2 separate regions of the Homo sapiens genome follow, and region 2 is linked to region 1. Evidence: fine-mapped expression QTL. A gene starts in region 1. The other region holds a variant in brackets. All regions are shown on one strand. Distances are from middle to middle.

Region 1 (8,000 bases):
TGGTTTCTTTGCTGTTTTTCTGCATATCAAATACAATCTTGCCTCAGATTGTACTTGTACTCATACACTTGTACTCATGTACTTGCCTCAGATTGTACTTATACTCAGATTGTACTTGTACTTTTCCTGGTAAAACCAGTCCCCCAAATAGCCACATAGAATCCTTATTTCTTTCAATATTCTGTTCAAAAGTCACCTCACAAAGCAGCTGACCCTGACAGAAAATACCTTATGTGACATAGGTTACCCTTCCATACTCTGTTGCCTTTTTCTTCATAGCAGATGTCATTATCTGACATAATCTAAAGCTTTTTAGAAATTTCTGTTTTTTTCCAACTCCAGAATATAAACTCCATGAGAGCAAGAATCTTATCTGTTTTGTTTCAGTTGGATGCCCAGTGCCTGTAACACCAATGCGTTAACAGGTGCTCGATAATTATTGTTGGATGAAGAAATGAAATACAGAGATGTTTTTATCTACAACAGTATTATATATTTGGGGGGTGGTATAGCAAGCGCTCATTGCTCTCCCCAAATACCACTTGTCAGTTGTTCAAGAAGTGCCACTGGAAAAAAGAGTAGCAGGGTTGCCAGAAAATCATTAGCACAAAGCTGGAAACATATTAATGTCCCCTCAAAAACTGAACTTTTGACTTATTAAAAATATCATGAATTGGGCTCAAATTCTCTGAAAGTGTAGCTAGTGGAAACCAATATGTCATAGATAATCATTTTTTTTTCTGAACCATTTAAGAGTAAGTTGCAGAAAGAATGTCTCATCACTGCTAAATTCTTCAATGTACATAGCCCCCCAACCACAGACATTCTTCTACAAAACTACAATATAAATATCCAAGTCAGGAATTCACCATTGATAAAATATACCATCCAATCTACCAATTTCACTGAATTTTTGCCAAGTGTTTATTTTTCCTTTCTGGTCTAGGAGCCAATCTGGGATATTTATTGTACGTAATTGTCACATCTCTTAAATCTCTTCAATTTGGATCAGTTCTTCTGTTTTTCTCTGTCTCTCATAAGTTTAAGAGTTTTAAAGAATATAAACTTTTCATTTTGAAGGTTGCCTCTCATCCTGGGTTTATCCATTGTTTCCTTATGTCTAGACCATGCCGTGTATTGTTCTTTTCAGGAACATGACAGAAATGACACTGTAATTCCAGTGCATTTCATAAGGAGGTACATGATAGGACTCATTCTACAAATGGTGATGTTCACCATGATCACCTGCTCAACTTGGTGTCTTCCAGGTTCCTCTTCAATAAATTCACCATTTATTGAATTAATAAGTATTTTTCAGAAGATACTTCAAGACTAGGCTAATATCCTGCTTCACATCAAACACCTACTCATCAGCCTTAGTATCCATTGATGACTCCTGCCTAAATCAAACAACACTCTTGTCAAATGGTGACTTTCTATATCCATTAATCCTTATCAGTAGGTATTTCTACCATAAGGAAGAGCTGTTCCTCCCTATTTATTTACTCCATCATTTTTCTGTATTAACATTAGCACGGATTCATGCCTTATTAGATAGGTTGTAATCAGTTACTAGGATCATTTATTTTATGTTCAGACTGTCCCAGATTTGGCCAGTGGGAGCCCTTTCCAGCTGGCTCTTCTGTCTTTTTGACATACTCCCATCATGCTTGGAGCATTTCCTTTCAAGAGGTTATGGGCTCACTCTGTACTTTCCCAGTGTCAGCCCTATAATCAGCCAGCTTGCTTTTCGTGGAGGATGCTATTTAGAAACGAAGATCTTCTGGCCACTGGATGTGCCTTTTGCTTTTGGCCTCTGAATGGAGAGAGCTATGGTATATATGTGTGCACACACATAAATATATATACATATAGTTTTTGAAAAATTATTTCATACTCATTGTTAATCCACCCTAAAGCCTCAAGGTTATTTACAGCTCTCTTTCTTTCCATATTTGTAAATTCCTTCTCCAACAGTAAGAAACCTCGCTCCTATTTTACTCAGTGTTTTACTTATTAGCCCAATGGCCCTGTAATTAAGCAATCTTCCAGCCATGCTATTTCCTTGACCCTGTCATCTCTTTAGCACCTAACTTTTCCAAAGGAAAGAAGGGGTAAGGGATAGTCACACATTCTTAATAACATAGCTTCTCCAAGTCTTCCAGCTGGAGAAAAAAAATGCTAAGCGATAAAGAAGACTGGGGAAACACTGTGGGTTGCTAAAGGCAACTGCTCAGAACCTAGCCGGGGGTTTCTAGCAGTGGACTCCTCCCTCAGATCTCTGGTGGTTCAGGAACCAGCAGCCAGGTGTCTCCACTTTTGCCTCCTTGGCAGTAAGCGCTATAAAAAGCACTGTCCCAATTGCCTAGAAGCCTATTTTCTAAAATGAATAAGCTAGGAACACATACAAATTCAGCACATCAAATGCCATAGAGACAAATTCTTCTAAGTAGTTCTTCTTGTGCCTGCTTCTAATTTGGGTACAGCTGAGGCTCTTTGCCCTCCCTTAACAGCCATCAGCTGTTTGTACTGCTGCCGGAAAAAGAGAAGTTGTACTGGTGGACGTTCATTAACGAAGAGCTGTAAACATGCTAAAGTCCTGGGGAAAAGGCAGCCTTTCATTTTTTAAATTTAAATCATGAATGGGTCCTGGGTTCTCTGAAAGAGCATCAGGTGGGAAACACAATGTAAATGATAGAGAACCATCAAACAAATATTTTTAGAGACTATATGGCAGGCATCTCAAGCCAAGGGAAAGGATATCCACCACCAAAACGTCTAATTGGTAAGGCACTCTGCTGTACTACAGTTTTAAGAACACTACACTAGGGGGACTGTACTGTCTGCTGACTACTGTAATCTCTATGCACAGTTGGAGAGCGCACTATAAACAATAACCCAAACAAACCTCCCTTGCCTGTTGGTGCTGCGAGTCCCCTGTTCCCAGCCATGACAATCAGAATAAACACAGTCCAGAAATGTCTCACCCGGTTTCTCTTCTTACAGAGTGACAAAACACCTATTCTATAAGAAAACGAATGTTAGATGTTTGCTTCCAGGTGGGCAGTAGGAAGCCCATTGTTATACCCATCTTAACAGAATGGTTGTTAGACCAGCAGCATCAGCACCACCTGGGAACTTGTTAGAAATGCATATTTTTGGGGCCCTACCACAGATCTACTGAACCAGAAACTTTGTGGCAGGACCCATCGGTCTGAGTTTTAAAACTAAAGATTTGATAGCCACTGCCCTAGGTATTCCAGAGGTAGCTTTGGAAGGACCTCAATACCAAACCACCTTACACTTTGGCCTTAGGACAGGTAATCAGGGAGCTCACGGCAGTACTTCCAGCAAACGGGAGGGTCGTTTACGAGAGGCACATACATTTGCTAAATGTAACGCTCAGGAAGTTATTCCCGTACTCAAAGGTCGAGGGGTCGCTTCCTCTTTACCTCCACCTAGATTAAGTCGCCGATTGAGGTTGAATTTGAGACCCGACAGGGGTCGCTGCTGCCCATAAAGAGAGACCAAGGGAACATGGCAAGAGAATCCCAGGGGCTTTGACATCACACTAAGCTCCTCCTTGCACGCACACATTATACACACACACACACACACACACAAACATACAGACACACACACACGGACCGCTTACTCCGCTCTGCCTGCTCGCTCCCACTGTCCCCAAGCCCGCCCCGCCCGCGGCAAGTGCGTGCCCAGGCGCAGCCACCGGCGAGATCAGGAGCGCAGCGCCCGCAGCCTGAGGGAACCGGCGCAGGGCAGCAGCGGCTGCAGCTGGATTCGCGCGCCCCAGCGCTCAGTGGCGGCGGCCGGGACACCCTGGGCAGCACCCCGCACCGCAGCACCCCAGACTACGAGCAATCGTGCCCGTCCCCGCCGGGGCTGGAGGGCGCAGGGCCGCCACCCTGCAAGTTCGTGGGCCCCCGGCCACCCTTATGAGAGAAGGCGAAGCCGGGCGAAGGAGCAGGACGCTCGGCAGCAGGACTCCTCCGCAAGCCCCGCGGGCCCTCTGTTCCCGCGCCCCCCGGGCGCCCAAGAAGCAAAATGCAACCACCGCGCTACAGCTGAGAGGGGAAGGGGCCAGCGCCATCCGCTCGCCCGGAATCCGGTCCCCGCGGCGGCTGCGCGTCCCGGCCGCGGCCCCTCCGGCCCGGGAGTGAGCAGCAGCAGGAGGAGAGGCAGCGGCCCGGGGTTGGCCGGGGCTGGGGAGGAGGGACGGGACGGAGGGAGGGCGCGGGGGCGGGGAGGGGGCCCCGGCGGATAAAGATGGCAATGTCTCTCATCCAAGCGTGCTGCAGTCTGGCTCTCTCAACATGGCTGCTTTCCTTTTGTTTCGTGCATCTGCTCTGCCTGGACTTTACCGTGGCCGAGAAGGAGGAATGGTACACCGCCTTCGTGAACATCACCTACGCCGAGCCCGCGCCGGACCCCGGGGCCGGGGCGGCGGGCGGCGGCGGCGCGGAGCTGCACACGGAGAAGACGGAGTGCGGGCGCTACGGAGAGCACTCGCCCAAGCAGGACGCCCGCGGGGAGGTGGTCATGGCCAGCTCGGCCCACGACCGCCTGGCCTGCGACCCCAACACCAAGTTCGCCGCCCCGACCCGCGGCAAGAACTGGATAGCCCTCATCCCCAAGGGCAACTGCACGTACAGGGATAAGATCCGGAACGCGTTCCTGCAGAACGCCTCAGCCGTGGTCATCTTCAACGTGGGCTCCAACACCAACGAGACCATCACCATGCCCCACGCGGGTGAGTGGCCCAGCGGGCGCGGGGGAGGGGAGCCGGCGGGGACGGAGGTGCCTAGAGGGATCCAGCGCCTGCCTCCAGGCTCCTTCTGGGAAGTCCGTGCGGCGCGGAAGACGTGTCTGGGTTCCCTGGACCGATTAAGTTTTGCTCCGCGTCACTTGGGGGGTTTACAAAGAGGAGAAGATTAACTGTATTGGGTAGGGGAGAGGCTGCCGGAGAGCTTGGCATAGCGCCGCTTGGACAGGGGTTCAACGTGGCGGGCTAACTTTTCCGAGGGGGACCTGGAAGGTGGGGTTTGGAGGGTAGGGCTCAGATACTGTTCTTGGTTAGTGACCGGCCCAGCACCTGTTTGGAACCAGTAGATCTGATACCACAGCACTGCCCTTGGGTCTGTGCATCAGGTATACCCTGATGCAGGCGCTATATCAGGAGAGGGGTAGGGTTACCTGCTGGCAGCTCACCACCGCGAACTTGCACTTGGGAGAGTTTCCCCTTTTGGGTTTACGCACTTCATTAATCATATTAAAAGTACTATGCTCTGCCAGGCTGTCATCCAGAGAAACTGACAGGTGGCCACGATGGTAAATAATAACAATCCTCAACAAGCCAAGAAGAGTGTGATGGCCCTAAAGTTATAACTACTTTTCTAATTATTGCATTATCCTTTGCCTGATTGGGAGGTTAAATATGCTGAAGGTTTTCTTTCTGGCTAGAATGAAGGGATTTCAGACTAGAGAGAATAAGCTTTTGTTAATGATCGCAGGTACCAGGACTAGAAATGCATTACTGTCCCAAAACTCAATACCGCATATGCCTGACATAAGCAATGTTTCCCTGGTGGTAGGAACACCCTCCCCCCAAAAAAGCCATCCCCAGGCTTGTTAACATAAGTCCATAAGCCACTAGTTTTAGCAAGCTAGCCTCCTTATGTCAGAGCTTGCTGCTTGTATTTGTGTGCCTGAGAAGTGGGCCCTCCTTCCCCAAAGGGGTTTCTGGGCCGAGACTGTGGCATCCAGTGCCCGGAAGGAGGGGAGAAAATGACAGATGCATTTTCTGAGTGGAGTCTCCTAATCAAAAGCATTATTTTCTTTAAAAACCAAATTTGAATAAATAGTTACGCTGCTGAAATGGAACACCAAGCTCTGGCTACATTTGTAGGGGTGTTCTCTTTGGGGACAAGTTTCCATTCCGAGAGCTCATGTCACCTATTAGTGAAATATTCAATTGGTTTGCCTCCAGTAATCAACACCAGCTGTTTTAGTCAGGGAAATTTGTCAACCTTAACACAAACAGGTGGGGAGGGGAAATGTTCCAGACTTCTAAAACACAGGCCAGAAAAATGTAGTGTGTTAATTAATGAAGAGGAGGAGAGGCAATTACTTAGAAAAGTTACAATACAGCACTTTCAGAATATTCGATATATTTTCTTGAGCTCGACAGTTTTCTAAGGGAAAAGATTGTGCTCTCACCTTGAGTCTTAAGAGCACTACTGAAACTTTGATATTCAAGGATGTTAAGGACTATGGAAAGCACTGTAAGTCATGTAAAGCATCTTTAGATAAACATGTTACTTAATATTTAAAACCTCAGTGGAGGAGGGGTGAAGGAAGCTTTTTTGTTTTTGTTGTTCTTTAAACTCCAAGAAGATTGTTAGCTGACTTTGTGAGATTCTTTGTTTCTCTGTGCATATGCATGAAATCTTGAACTCAACTTCTTTGAACATAAAGTAAGAGGCATCATTTGTTCCTGTCTAAAAAGGTTCTCTAGAACTGCCAACACATTGGATCAATTAATGGCTTGCTTATTTTTAAAGAAAACACTAAGCAGATTTCCCACACAAATGATGCTTGATTAAGATAGTGGGAGTGGAAGTTTAGTAATACTGTAGTTTGAACGTTAAAGGAAAAAAAAAATTGGAAATTGTCTATTATCTAATTGTTCTGTTTCCAAAAATGTATTCATGCTGTATCTGCCAATGGCCAGGAAACTCCATATTATCTTCTGACATTTTGCCACATTAGGAGACTCTGTTCACTTCAGTCAGAGGCTAGCATTGATTTCTGCTAGAGTGTCATTATGAGCAGATACATGACAGGGTAGCATGGTAAACCCTTGACTATACTCTGAAATTCTTCTGCCTAAATCTCAAACACTGCCAGCTCTTGTCTGGCTGTCAGTGTCTTCCATGTAGTCCAGATCTTGAAAGCTTTACTTTTCCTAGTTAAATTTGAGGTCAGATTTCTGAATTCAGTTTGAGAAACTGCACATTTTAGATGCTAATCAAATATTTTTATTTTGTGAACTTGGGATACCATACCAGAAAATCTGCATATTTGTGAACTTTTAAATTCAGTTTTTAAAAAGTTTTAAAAACTGCAAAAGCTGATGATATATCTATCACCTTTCCTTAGATGCTTTATTTTTGGAACTGATAGATTTCAGGTGAGAAGGTCTGTATTTAGTGTTATGCAACCTGTCGTTTAACATCTATGCATTTGTGTATCTTGAAATTCAATTAAATAGAAATTGTTTTGTCCTTTTCATATACGTTTTCTGTTTTTTTCTTTTCCTGCTTAAATAATTTTGATTTTCTGCCACTTATGTAACTATAACTTCTCATTCAAAAAGACACCACTTCTCCTGGGATAGACCAGTAGTTTTGCTTTATAACAAGTCACTTTCCTCCCCAGTATAACAGCTTTACTGAAATATAAACATACTCTGCAGTTCACTCATTTAAAGTATGCATTTCAATGGCTTTTAGTGTATTGACTGAGTTGTGCAGCCATCATCACTATCTAGTTCTAATAAGAAACTCTTGTACTTCCCCAATATTCCCCAACTCCTAGTCACTCCCCATTATTCCCCAACTCCCAGCCCTAGGCTAATCTACATTCTGTCTTCATGTATTTAAATGCCTCTTTTGTACCTTTCATATAAATGGAATCATATAATATGTGGACTTCTGTGATTGGCCTCTTTGATTTAGCATAATCTTTCTAAGGTTCATCAAGGTTGTAGCATGCGTCAGTACTTAAACCCTTTTTATTGCCAAATAATATTTCGTTGTATGGATATATCACATTTTGTGTATTTATTCATCAACTGATGGAAAATTACGTTGTTTCTACCTTTTAATTGTTATGAAAAATAGTGCTATGAACATTCATGTACAAGTTTTTGTATGGACATTTCTCTTGATTATATACCTAGGAGTGGAACTTCTGAGTCA
Region 2 (8,000 bases), 250 kb after region 1:
CTAAAGTGAGTTCTTTAAGTTGAAACAAAAGAACATTAGATAGTAACACAAAAGCTTACGGCACCATGAAGCTCAGTGGCAAAAGTAAATATGTAGACAAATACACAATACTGTGATAGGGTGGTGCATAAATACTGTAATGGTGGTACATAAATCACTTTTAATTCTGGTATAGAATTTAAAGGACAAAGGTGAAAAAAACTACTTTAATGGATGTAAAATATACTAAAGATATAATTTATAACATCAGTAACTTAGTGTAGAAGGGAATATATAAGAGTAGAGTTTTTATATGTGGCATTATCTGCTTAAAATAGATTATTATAACTCTGACATGTTTTATGTCATCTCTATAGTAACCACAAAGAAAATACTCAAAAAAGTACACAAAAGATAAATGAGAAACAAATCAAAGTATATAGCACTACAAAAAAAAATGAACAAAACTAACAAGAAGGCAGCAAGAGAGGGAAAAAGAGAGATAACTACAACATAGAAAATGATAAAATGAAAATAATAAGTACTTCCCTATCAGTAATTACTTTAACTGTGAATAAACTCTCAGATCAAAAGACTAAATAAATGAAAAACAAAAGGTAACTATATGCCGTCTACAAGGCAGTCACTTTAGATTTAAGGACATACCTGAGCTAAAGGGAAAAGATGAAAAAAGATGTTCCATGTAAATGGTAACCAGAGAGAACAGAGGTGCTCATATCAGAAAAAATTAGACTAAGTAAACAACTGTCACAAGAGACAAAGAATGTCATTATATAATGATTAAAAGGTTAATTATTCAGAAAGATATAACAATTATTAATATATATTTACCTAACAGAGCACCCAAATATATGAAGTAAACATGTACAGAATTTAAAGGGAAAATAGTAACACAATAAGAGTAAGAGATTTCAATACCCCATTTTCAAAAATAGATAGAAAACCAGACTGAGAACAATAGGCATAAGTAGAATAGAGCAACACTATAGATCAGTTGGATCAAACAGACATATACAGGACACTCCACCCAACAGTAGCAGAATACACATTTTTCTCAAATGCACATGAAACATTCTCAAGGATAGATCACATGTTAGGCCACAAAACAAGTCTTAAGAAATTTAAGAAGATTGAGTGGCTCACACCTGTAATCCCAGCACTCTGGGAGGCCGAGGCGGGTGGATCACGAGGTCAGCAGATCGAGACCATCCTGGCTAACATGGTGAAACCCCGTCTCTACTAAAAATACAAAAAATTAGCCGGGCGTAGTGGCGGGTGCCTGTAGTCCCAGCTACTCAGGAGGCTGAGGCAGAAGAATGGCGTGAACCTGGGAGGTGGAGCTTGCAGTGAGCCGAGATTGCACCACTGCACTCCAGCCTGGGCGACAGAGCAAGACTCCATCTCAAAAATAAAAATAAAAAAATTAAAAATAAAGAAAATTAAGAAGATTGAAATCATACGAAATATCTTTTCCAACCACAGTGAAATGAAACCAGAAATCAATAGCAAACTGGAAAGCTCATCAAAATGTAGAAATTAAACAACATCCTCTTTTTTTAAAGAGATGGAGTCTTGCTTTGTCACCCAGCCTAGAATGCAGTGACATGATCATAGCTCACTGCAGCCTGAAACTCCTGGGCTCATGATATCCTCCCACCTCAACCTCCTGAGTAGCTGGGACTGCAGGTACATGTCACTACACTTGGCTCTTTTGCTTTGTTTGGTTTTTCATAGAGACATAGTCTCATTATGTTGCCCAGCCTGGTCTCAAACTCCTGGGTTCAAGCAATCCTCCCACCTTGGCCTCCCAAAGGACTGAGTTTACAGGCATGAGCCCCCATGCCCAACCAACACTCTCTTGTATAACCAGTGGGTCAAAGAAGAAATCACAAGATAAACTGGAAAACGTCTTGAGACAAATGAAAACAAAAAGGTAATGTACCAAGACTTATGGGAGGCAACAAAAGAAGTACAAAGGGGCCAGGTGTGGTGGCTCATGCTTGTAATCCCAGCAGATTGGGAGGCTGAGGCAGATGGATCCCTTGAGCTCACAAGTTTGAGACCAGCCTGGGCAAAATGGTGAAACCTCATTTCTACAAAAAAATACAAAAATTATCCAGATGTGATAATGTATGCCTCTAGTCCCAGCTACTTGAGAGGCTGAAGTGTGAGGATGGCTTGAGCCCAGGAGGTGGAGGCTGCAGTGAGCCAAGATCATGCCACTGCATTCCAGCCTGTGCCATACAGCTAGACCTTGTCTTAAAAAAAAAAAAAAGTACAAAGGAAAGTTTATATCAATAAATGACTACATTAAAAAAGAAAGATCTCAAAGAACCAAACTTTATACCTCAAGGAACTAGAGAAAAGAAAACAAACCAAATTCAAAATTAGCAGAATTTCAAGGGAATAATAAAGATTAGAGCAGATATAAATGAAATAGAGAATAGAAAGACAATGGAATAAAGCAACCAAACTTAGAATTTGTGTTTTGAAAGGATCAACCAAATTGACAGATCCTTAGCTAGACTAATTAAAATAAAGAGAAGACTTGAATAAATAGTTAGACATTAAAGAGGAGACATTACAACTAATGCCAAAGAAATAAAAAATATTATGAGACTACTGTGAATAACCTAGAAGAAATGTATAAATGTAGAAATTCCTAGACAAATGCAATCTGTTATGACTGAATCATGAAGAAATAGGAAATTTCAACCAACCTATCACTAGTAAGGTGATTGAACCAGTAATAAAAAGACCTTTTGTTTAAAACAAACAAACAAACAAACAAACAAAAAAAAACCCAGGACCAGATGGCTTTACTGGAGAATTATCCCAAACATTTAAAAAAGAATTTATGACAGTTCTTCTCAAACTCTTCCAAAAAAAAAAAAGACTGGAGAGGAGGGGACACTTCTAAACTATTTTATGAGGCCTGTATTACCATAATACCAAATCCAGACAAAGATACTACAAGAAAAGAAAATTACAGACCAATATAACCAATAAATATTGATGCAAAAATCTTTGACAAAATATGAGGAAATCAATTTAAACAGTACATTAAAAGATTATATACCATGACCAAGTGGGATTTATCCCTGGAATGCAAGGATG[A/G]TTCAGTATACAAAAAAAAATCAGTCAGTGTAATACACCACATTAACAGAACAAAGAATGAAAATCACATGATTATCTCAACTGATGCAGAAAATGCATTTGAAAAAATTCAACATGCTTTTATAATAAAAATATTCAACAAACTAGGAATAAAAGAATTCCCTCAACATAAGAAAGGTCAAGTATGAAAAGTCTATAGCTAACATCATTCTAGATGGTGAAAAACTGAAAGCTTTCTTCCAAGATCAGGAACAAGACAAGAATGCTCACTCTTACCACTTCTATTAAACACAGTACTGGAAGTCCTAGTCAGAGCAATTAGGAAAGAAAAAAATATATAAAAAGCATCCAATTTGGAAAGGAGGAAATAAAATTATCTCTGTTCACAAAATGACATGATCTTATATGTAGAAAACTTTAAAGATTCCACATTTCAAATGCTCTTAAAACTAATAAACTATTCAGCAAAGTCAAAGTTTCTAGGTGCAAATTTTTTTTTTCTTTTTGAGACAGGATTTTGCTCTGCCACACAGGATGGAGTACAATGGCACAATCACAGCTCACTGGAGCCTCAACCTGGGCTCAAGTAATCCTGCCAGCTTAGCCTCCCAAATAGCTGGGTCCACAGACATGTGCCACCATGCCAGGCTAGTTTTTTTTCATCTGTAGAGACATGATCTTGCTATGTTGCCCAGGCTGGTCTTGAACTCCTGGACTCAAGTGATCCTTCTGCCTCAGCCTCCCAAAGTGCAGGGTACAAAATTAACATAAAAGATTAGTTGAATTTCTGAACAGTAACAATATGAAAGGAAATTAAGAAAACAGTTCCATTTATGATAGCATCAAAAAAGTAAAATACTTAGGAATAAACTTAATGAACAAGGTGAAAGACTTGTACACTGAAAACTTAAAACATTGCTTAAAAAAGTTAAGACATAAATAAATGGAAAGATATCACATGTTCACGGATTGGAAGACAATGTTGTTAAAATGTCCATACTACCCAAAGCAATCTGTAAATTCAATGGAATCTTTATCAAAATCCCAATGGCATTTTTTTTGTGTGGAAACAGAAAAACAGTCCTAAAACTCATATTTACTCCAAATAGCCAAAACAATCATGAGAAAGAAGAACAAAATTGAAGGCCTCACACTTCCTAATTTCAAAACATATTACAGAGTGATGGTAATCAAAACAATATGGTACTGGCATAAAGACAGACATGTAGACCAATAAAACAGAATAGAGATCCTCATGTATATGGTCAAATAATCCTCAACAGTGAGCCAAGACTACATAGTGGTGGAAGGATAGTGTCAAAAAATGGTGTGGAGAAAAGTGGAGGTCCACATTGCAAAAGAAAGTAATTGGACCCTTATCTTAGAGCGTAAGCATACAAAAAAATCACTCAAACTGAATTAAATACCTAAATCTAAGACCTGAAACTGTAAAACTCCTAGAGGAAAACAGGAGGGGGAAAGCTTCATGGCATTGTATTTGGTAAGGATTTCTTGGAAATGACACCAAATGCACAGGCAACAAAAACAAAAATAGACAAATTGGACTACATTACACTAAAATCTTCTGCACAGTAAACAGTCAACAGAGTGAAAAGACAAGCTACAGAATGAGAGAAAATATTTGCAAACCATATATTTGATAAGGTGTTAATATCCAGGATACACAAAGAACTCCTACAACTCAAATTACAGAATAAATAACCCTATTGAAAAATAGGCAAAGGACTTGAATAGATAATTTTCCTAAGAAGAAGTACAAATGGCCAACAAGCATAAAAAAGATACTTAACATCACCGATCATCAGGGAAATGTGAATCAAAACCACAATGAGGCCAGGCACAGTGGTTTACGCCTGTAATCCCAGCACTTTGGGAGGCCAAGGGCAGGTGAATCAACTTGAGACCAGGAGGTTGAGATCAGCCTGGCTGATATGGTAAAACCCCATCTCTACTACAAGTACAAAAATTAGCTGGGCATGGTGGTGCATACCTGTAATCCCAGCTACTCAGGAGGCTGAGGCACAAGAATTGCTTGAGCCTGGGAGGCAAAGGTTGAGTGAGGTAAGCCAAGATTGTGCCACTGCACTCCAGCCTGGGTGATAAAACAAGATTCTGTTGAAAAAAAAAAAAAAAAAAAAACACAATGAGATATCACCTTAACCTGTTAGGATGACTAATATTAAAAATAAATAAATAAAATTTAAAAATAAACACAAAATAGTAAGTGTTGATGGGGATATAGAGAATCTTTCTCCCTCTGATCTCATTGAAACCACAGCCAACACTTCAGGAGCCACAGTGACCTGTCTGAACCATTCCACATCCTTCATACACTAAGCCACAGGCAAGTCAAACCATCCACATGCCTTGAAATTTGCTTTGATGATTGCTATAGTCATGCTGGCCCTTCTGGAAGGAATTCCATTTCCCCTTACCTCCATACTTCCCAATACTAATTAGATCCTCACTGCCAGCCTACATGTAACCTACTTCATGAATCCTCTTGGTTACCCACTTAGAGGTGATATTTTCCCCACACCTTTGTTTCCTTAACATTTTATTTACACCTCTCTTTTAGCATATGTCACCTTGTATTACATTTCTATGGATACAAATCTGATCTCTTTTAGTAGATCAAATTCAGCTTAAAGTCAGAGCCTGTATTTAGGTCATCTTTCTTTTCTCCACACTGCTCATCAGCAGTGCTGTGTACCTAATACATGTTCAATAAACATCTGTTGAATAAAGATTAAGTGAATTGTTGAATGAATAAATGGGGTCTATAGATAATTTTATACGGTTGCAGAAATGGATAAATATGTATGAACTCTGCCTATCTCTCTAAATCCATTTGGCAACTTTCTCTTTTACACTCCTTTTTCATACCAATCATATTTACATTCATCAAAAGTCTTTCATCTACCAGATATTATGCTTAATGTTTAAGGTTCTCAATAGGTGGTACTAATTGGGCATTGTAAAAAAAAACTGTTGACAACACAATGTGCACTAGATTTTGTCTCCTTCCCTGCAAAAACAAATGTAAAACTAATGTAAAAATCACTTTGCCTCTTCTTTTGGCACTTAGCAAGGAATGACTCAATGAATGAACTGCCAAGGAAATCAGTAAGGAATTTGAGCAGTTGGAGAAAATCTTTCCCCTGCTAGATGAAGTGTCACAGGGAAAGAAAACCAACAGCAAAGAGATAAAAGCAAAGTGAAATCCTAACTATGTGATCTAATTTAATATACAGGCTTCTAATTTAATATACAGGGAATTCTCCTTCACCAAATCCAAATGAAAACAATGTTTTAAACTTCCCCATCTGAAAGGTGAGAAAGAATTTTCCTAATTTGACCGCAAGATGTATATATTTGCAATTATGGAACAGGAATTGAAAAGGCAAAACTGTCAGTTATATCTGAACAATTCTAGAAGTCACTTGGCCAAATGGATGAATTTGTATCATAAGCCTGCTGGGTTTCCAAATGTGGCTGAGTCTTGTCTGTAAGAGCAACATAGCAGCCAAATAGAACTCTAGTAGCTCTGCCATTCCAGAATAGTACAACTGTCAATTTCACTGACTTGGGTTGAGATCCCACTTCTTCCATCTTCTATGTGCTCACCCTCACCTATAACATGTGAAGCCATCATAGCGGTATTATTGTGAGGGTGACGTGTGATATATTTAATGGCATAGCAAAATGCCTGGCATGTAGGAAGGAGCCAGTCTATCCTAGCTATTAGTATCCACCCTATTGCATACCCTCTGAGGAAAGCGGTCCAGAGACCTTGCCATTCTCACATCAGAGGCCACTCATAAATGGGAAAACATAAACCAAGTGGGAAGTAGTTTATCTCCTTAGAAATTCTTGCTAAGGCAAAGAATTCAAAGGAACACATTTCCTTATTGCAAACACGCTGCATTTAAAGTCTAATTAACTTTCCCACTAACATAATGACAGGCTATATAGACACTGCCCCAGCCTGAAGGGAGTTTCACATTCTGAGATGAAAAGACAGCAACATTATAATTCAACCAATGTGGTTGAAAGTGCCTTCCCTATAGTGCTCTTGTACAATACAGGGTTGATTGGAAATTATGCCCTATTTTCAAGAAGATAAGCATCAGCAGCAGTGGACAGAAGGATGCCATTTTTCTTTGAAACCTTACTTTTCAAGTACATGAGGAAAAATAAGCTTTTGTGTAATGCAGAGCAACTCCCAGCATGCAAACACCAGACCTCCTGGAGAATAGGCCACCTGGGGGATTATATTAACCACCACCTTATTTTCTCTCAAAACAGAGAGCACTTATTCTGAGGGCAATGTTTGTTAATTCCTAACAGAGGAGGACTTATGCCAGCCTGCTACTGGTCTGTGCCTTCTTTCATAAGACAGGCAGTAGAGTGAGTAAATAAACCTCATTCAGGGAAGGATAGTTTTCTGCTTTAGCTTTGAATAACCACCATAAAGAAACAATTAAGTAGGAAAGCAGTGACTTCATGTGAAAACTATCATGTCAAGTTAATAGAACACATAGCTAGTGGAATGTAAACCAAAATATGCATTAAAAAAAAACACAAACAAAACCAAGCCATTCTGTTGCTTACTGTAATGTGTTATCCAACTCACCAGGGATGCAAAATCATTTAAGTGAACGGTTCTTAGCCTTTCGTGAGTTTGAGAATCTGATGAAAACTACCAGGAAAAGGCCTATATGTAGCTATAAATGTGTGTATGTAATTTTAAATGCCTAATCCCCCAGCCCCACCCTGCAAATCACTAATCCTTAAGTTAAGAATCTCAACTCAAGAACAGATTATGGGCCAGGTATGGTGGCTCACCCCTGTAATCCTGG

Alleles and levels. Positions count from the first base shown, and alleles are read on the strand shown. Sizes are in standard deviations (SD) of each study's normalised expression.
With allele G in place of A in region 2, the expression in subcutaneous fat of the gene that starts at base 3,627 in region 1 is lower (large effect, 0.79 SD a copy in TwinsUK).

The links.
Region 2: its variant is fine-mapped to the expression of RNF150 in subcutaneous fat (TwinsUK, PIP 0.95).

Annotation. Positions count from the first base shown.
Region 1 is chr4:141,129,096-141,137,095 of GRCh38, reverse strand. It overlaps RNF150 (ring finger protein 150), which reads left to right and starts at 3,627. Exons shown (of 7, transcript NM_020724.2): 1 at 3,627-4,771. The coding sequence starts at 4,288. RefSeq lists a silencer at 3,689-3,808.
Region 2 is chr4:140,875,442-140,883,441 of GRCh38, reverse strand. The region is part of intron 6 of RNF150 (ring finger protein 150); the gene reads left to right. Among named protein-coding and RNA genes, the nearest start is that of TBC1D9, 120 kb to the right of the region's middle. The variant A/G (reference allele first, on the strand shown) is at 3,118.